Linked DNA regions of Homo sapiens: region 2 is linked to region 1. Evidence: fine-mapped expression QTL. A gene starts in region 1. The other region holds a variant in brackets. All regions are shown on one strand. Distances are between the middles of the regions. Region 1 holds the start of SLC22A7 (solute carrier family 22 member 7). Region 2 overlaps ZNF318 (zinc finger protein 318).

Region 1 (2,909 bases):
CAGATGGGCTCAGCCTCACTCTGACAACTGCCTTCTTCCAGCCCTCTAGGTCCTGCCTGTTTCTTGCCTGCCTCACCCAGTGGCATCACGATGATGGTAAAACCAGCCAGGGCTGAGCCAGTAAGGGTGCGGGTGATGGCAAACATTACATAGCTGACGGAGGCTGCAGATGCCAGGCCCAGCACCAGGGTACTCACGTAGGCTACCAGCAGCAGACGCCGCCGCCCAAACCTGCAAAGGGGTCATGCAGGGTCAGTTCCCTGTGGAAGGAGGTTCTAAGGCATAGGTAGACTAGGCTCATACCCCAGCTAGTGGGAGAAAGTTCCCCCAGCCAGTTTCTTATTGGCCCAGTGCCTCACCCCACCTGTCGGACAGATATCCAAAGGCCACAGCCCCCACCAGCACACCGGCGAAGAAGAAAGTGGACGCAGCTCTGTTCAGACCTTTCTGCTCACACACCAGATCCCACTGCAAGGACAGGCAGAAAGGGACCTCCTATGAACATCAGCCCCTCTCCAGCAGGCACCAGCTCCTCCTCTCCAGACCCTGGAGCCTTCTGAGGCGAACTCTGCCATTCTGGTACCTCCATGCCAGATAATAAACCTCCCAACGATTCACGCCAGCTTGGGGAATAGGAAACTTTGTCCCTCCCCAGTCCTGCAGCCTCAGCTTCTTCCCAAGGAAGGCCTCGACCTGCTGCCTCCCAGGGAGACTGCCTCCACCGACATTCCACCTCCAGATGGATTATGTAAATACCGACCTGGGACTGGAAAAGAGGAAGGGAGAAAAGAAGGCCTCTATTGTTTCTCCACCTCTTGCTGCAGAAATTGCCTTCTCAGCTCTTTGTCTCAACTCCCTGAAGCCACTTTAGCCCTTCCCTGCCTTAATCACCTCCCAATTAATGATGATGATAACAGTTCTTGTGTAGGATCCTGTTACTACAAGCCATGAACTAAAAGTGCCTTATATTCATAGCCCCCATCTACAGATTGGTAAACTGAGACTTTAAGAGGTAAAGTAATACATCTAATGCCTACACAGTAACCACCCAAGGCAATGGCAGGCCCATCCCTCTCACATGTCTCTCAACTTCTGGGCTTAAGTACCTCAGTTGCAATGGTAGAGGAGAATTCTGAGTGGTCGTACTCCCAGCCCTGAGAGCAGGGCACTGTGGCAGGTTCATCCTCCAGCTCCCCACGGCTCTGCCTTTCTTCCCCCAACGTGGTGTTGGGGAGAGCCTGGGGATAGGCAAAGCGGAGGCAGGAGCTGAGCGTGCCATCAGGCTCCCGGGGAAGATGGGCCTCCAGCCACACATCCTGATGGCTGAAGTTGGCAGGGGCACCCGGCAGGGCACATCGGTGGGCAGGCACGGCAGCCAGGAAGATGGGCAGGAGGAAGTGCAGTGGTAGCAGCACTCGGGGCAGGGCCAGCAGTGCCACATTCCGCAGTTGGAAGGGCCCAAAGCCGCCCACCTGCTCCAGCAGCTCCTCAAAGCCCATGCTGCTCACCCACCAAATGCTTCAGGTGCAGCCTCCCTCTAGTATCCAGCCAGCTCAAACTGCCCACCACATAGACCCTTGGACTCTGGAGGTGGGAGTGGATGGACTGGAGAGCCTGCAGCCAGAATCCAGCCCTCAGGGGCTGGCCCAGGACTGGGCCCTCCCCAGCCATCAGGTCTCCAGGGACCTCTACCTGTCTTGCCTGGTGCCTGGGGGAAGGGGAAGCCATCCATTCAGAGGTCACTGGCTCGTGGCTCTGGGGCTTACCCATTAGTGTTCAGGGACCAAGGCTACCATGATGAGGTAGCTGGGTGATGGCATAGGAGGTGAGCCCCTAGCCCCTTGGTCAGCAGAGCTCCCAGGATCCCTAAGAAGAGGAGGCCCCTGGGGCCTGGGGCCAGCTCTCCCAGGGTGCCCTTTGTCCTGTGAGACCTTAGGTCAGCCTTGCCTATTTGCAGCTACAGCCATGGCCTGGCCGACAGCCCAGGATTCAGGACTGAAAGCTGGATCCTAACCAGGTTTCTTTCTGCTGAGCCATGAGGCCTCCTCGCATCCCTCTCCCCTGCTGGGAGCTGATGCCCTGGCCTAAGACACACCTGTGATCACACCGGGCAACTTGATGTCTCTGAGGATCCCAGGCTCATCCCATTCCCACTTCACTCAGGGACTCTCCCCATACATATGGTTCCAACTGCCTGTCCCATTCCCCTATTTCCAGCAGCTTCCTAAATTACCTTTTGGAGGGATAGGGAATGGCGGGGGACATGTTGCCAAGGTACCTGCAATGCCTAAGATTACCTTTTGGAGGGGTAGGGAATGGGGGAGGGGGAGTTACCAAGGTCTTGTCAAAGGTACATGCAATACCTAAGACTCAAATGTTCAATCTGACCCTCCCACTCAATTCTCAATCATGGTCCCTGCAGCAAAAGTACAGCAGAAACCAGCAATGTCTGGTTTATTCTCATCTGATTCTCCAAACACTTAGCTGGCAGACCCACTGGTTTAATCCAGCTCCTACTTTGAACAGGTCAGAAAACTAAAGACAGGGAGGGGACCTGCTGGGGTCACACAATGACTCAGCAGCAGAGCTGAAGAAAAGACCAGGTCCCCTGACTCCAGACCAGGAATCTCACTTTTGACCTAAGCTGCTGAGCTGGTGATGTCCCAGTCTGCTCCAGGCTGGGATCCCTGAGAAAGCGCTGGGAAAGGAGCTAAATCGATGGCATGGCGTGTGTTAATGGGGGTGCTGACAGCCATGGAGTGAAGCAAGAGGCAGCTAATGGTGGTGGCAGTGACAGGGGGTGACAATGAGAAGAAATGTTTGAGTCTCTAGTGCATCCTCGCCATTCTAGAGGGTACATAGATGCCTCAGACACGGTCCCTACCCTTAGGGAGCTTACAGGAGGGTTA
Region 2 (2,909 bases), 67 kb before region 1:
TCTGGAGGAAAAATGTAGTCAGATGATGTCACTATCCTGTGTAAAACCCTCCTATAACTGTTAATTGCACTAAGAATAAAATCCAAATTTCCCAACTGTGCTTTCTGCCTATCTTTTCCTCTTCTGTCACTTTGCTGCAGCCACACCGGCCGCTTTTCTGTTACTTAAAGTATACCAAGCTCTATACTGAGGTGGTTCTTTTCTTTGCCTGAAACATCTTTCTACCTGTTCTTTGCAAAGCTGACACCTCATTCTTCAGGCCTCAGGTTATCACCTGAGAAAAACCTTTTCTAACCATCCTATCTGAAGTAACTCCTTTTATGGTACCATGTTTTAATGACTATAGCACTTACCAGAAGAATTTTTTTTTTCTTTAAACTTGTTTTTGGCTTACCTCCTTCACTAGAAGTATGTACACTAGAAGTAGGGTTCTGAGAGCAGGGACTTTATTCACTTCTCTTTTCCCATGCCCAGTAAGAATGAGAGGTCACCGTTTAGGAGAGTTAGAGGTATGGGCTTATATCTCTAAGAAAATGATAATTTTTAAAAAGTGCTTTATTTTTGGTATAGTGTCTTACCATAACCATTTCTCACCTTGTTGAACCCCAACTTTGCAGGGTTGTCTTTTGTTTTTGAGACAAGGTCCTGCTCATTGCCCAGGCTGAAGTGCTGTGGTGCAGTCATGGCTCACTGCAGCCCTGACCTCCCAAGCTTAAGCTATCCTCCCACCTCAGCCACCTGAGTAGTTGGGACCACACCTGGCTAATTTTAAACTTTTTTTTATAGAGATGGAGTCTGTGTTGCCCAGACTGGTCTCACATTCTTGCCTGGGCCTATACACCTCAGCCTCCCAAAGTGTTGGGTATACAGGCATGAGCCACCATGCCTGGCTAACTTTGTAACTAGGGAGGAGAGTTTTTGGATGTAGGGATGTCTTGACCCTATTGACTAACCATATTATCCTTTACTTTTGTAGAGACGCTCTCCTGGTCTGTGTTCTGACTCTTTGGAAAAGAGCTTAAGGATCACTGTTGGCAATGACCACTTCTGTGTTAGCACACCAGAACGGCGACGGCTTAGTGATCGGCTGGGGTCACCAGTGGATAATCTGGAAGACATGGACAGGTAGGCATCACCTAAGGCAGGGCCTACTATACTAGTACTTGAAGGCAGAAATGTTGCTGTTTTCCGAATGATATATTTGAAAGGATGGTGCCAGCTCTAAAGTTATTTCCTATGCCACATGTCC[A/C]GTACAAAATAAAACGCTGGGATAGAATTTCTAAGTGGGAGGAGTATAATGATGTGTAGACTCTGTTGTTGAATAAATTGTATAGAAAAAAAGACTTTAAAAAGGTCATCTGAGTCTGACTAGAAAGAAGAGGCTGAGGGGACATAATCAGAGTCCCCCAAATGAAGAACAGTTGAGATGGTATAGATTCTAAAACAGTGAAACTATGAGCAGTCCCTTCTCCAAAGAAAAGTTCTGGACAAAATGGGAAGTCTTTTTAAAATGGTGTTATTTTTTAGTTTATCCAGGCTGAAACAGATTCAGAAAGGGTTAGGTAAGTTCATGTCTAATATATGTGTGTATGTGAAGTAGATAAAGTATTAATAGAAAGCTAGAGACCTTCAAAAATGTTTAAGTTCAGTTATTATTTTACAACTATTGAGTGCTGAGGAAGGGTAGATACACTCAAGAGAGTTGGATATAGACCTCAGGTACTAGGAACTTAACCATATATAGATTGTAAATAATCACATTAGGTGTTTTTCACCTCACAAAAGTCAAAGTATGGATGGGAGTTCAGGAAAGCACTCTTTCTCAGAGCTGAGACCATGACTGTTATGGTCTCTGCCCAGCACATTGGGAGTTTTGACAAATGATTAGCAGTAGCAATAAATCAATGTAATGTAATTTCAAACTGAGACTGTCGCTTGCCGTGTTGCACAGAGCATAGCTAGGCGGGTGGGGGAGAGCTGGGCAGGAAGTCTGAGGACCAGTTTTGCCGTTGGTAATACCTAAAAGTTCCATTGGCTGTGGATGCAGTGAAGCAAGGCAGAACAGTCTTTTTTTTTTTTTTTTTTCAGGCTTAATTCACTTTATATTTCTTGTATAAAAACCCTATGTTGTAGCCACAGCTGGAGCCTACGTCCTCTGCACAGAGACTCTGGTGTGTGTCTTGATGAGGTGGTCAGTGAATTCCTGATAGGGAGACTTGGTGAATCCTGTCTCCTTCCAGAGGTCGGGGGTCAGGTAGCTGTAGGTCTTAGAGATGGCATCAAAGGTGGCCTTGGCGAAGTTGCCCAGGGTGGCAGTGCAGCCCCTGGCTGAGGTGTAGCAGTCATCAATACCAGCCATCATGAGCAGCTTCTTGGGCACGGGCTGAGACGATGCCAGTGCCCTTGGGCGCAGGGATGAGGTGCACCAGCACAGAGCCGCAGTAGCCTGTCACCTTGCAAGGAACGGTGTGGGGCTTGTGGATCTTGTTCCCCCAGTAGCCTCTGTGCACAGGGAGAATGGAGAGCTTGGCCAGGATGATGGCCCCGCAGGTGGCAGTGGCCACCTCCTTGGAGCACTTAACACCCAGACCGACGTGGCCATTGTAGTCCCCGATGGCAACAAACGCCTTGAACCTTTTCAACTGGCCAGTGTGGGTCTGCTTCTGCACTGGCATAATCTTCAACACCTCATCCTTGAGAGAGGCCCCCAGGAAAAAGTCAGTGATCTCAGATTCCTTGATGGGCAGGAAGAAGAGGTAGTTCTCCAGGGACTTGATCTTTATGTCCTTAACCAAGCAGCCCAGCTTGGTGACAGGCATCCACTCCTTATCCTTGGCCTTGCCTCCACGAGCTCCGTGGCCTCAGCCCTGTCCACAGCTGCAACCCCAGCCCCTCCATGGAAGCCACCA

The links. PIP is the estimated chance that this variant, and not a neighbour inherited with it, causes the effect.
Region 2: its variant is the best candidate, but not a certain one, in a credible set for the expression of SLC22A7 in testis (GTEx, PIP 0.82).

The regions. Positions count from the first base shown.
Region 1 is chr6:43,296,949-43,299,857 of GRCh38, reverse strand. It overlaps SLC22A7 (solute carrier family 22 member 7), which reads right to left and starts at 1,598. Exons shown (of 11, transcript NM_153320.2): 1 at 1,107-1,598; 2 at 761-766; 3 at 365-468; 4 at 77-231. The coding sequence starts at 1,499. LOC124901319 (a long non-coding RNA gene) reads left to right here. Exons shown (of 2, transcript XR_007059582.1): 2 at 42-916.
Region 2 is chr6:43,363,508-43,366,416 of GRCh38, reverse strand. It overlaps ZNF318 (zinc finger protein 318), which reads left to right. Exons shown (of 10, transcript NM_014345.3): 2 at 977-1,125. It also overlaps the pseudogene RPS2P28. Among named protein-coding and RNA genes, the nearest start is that of ZNF318, 4.7 kb to the left of the region's middle. The variant A/C (reference allele first, on the strand shown) is at 1,250.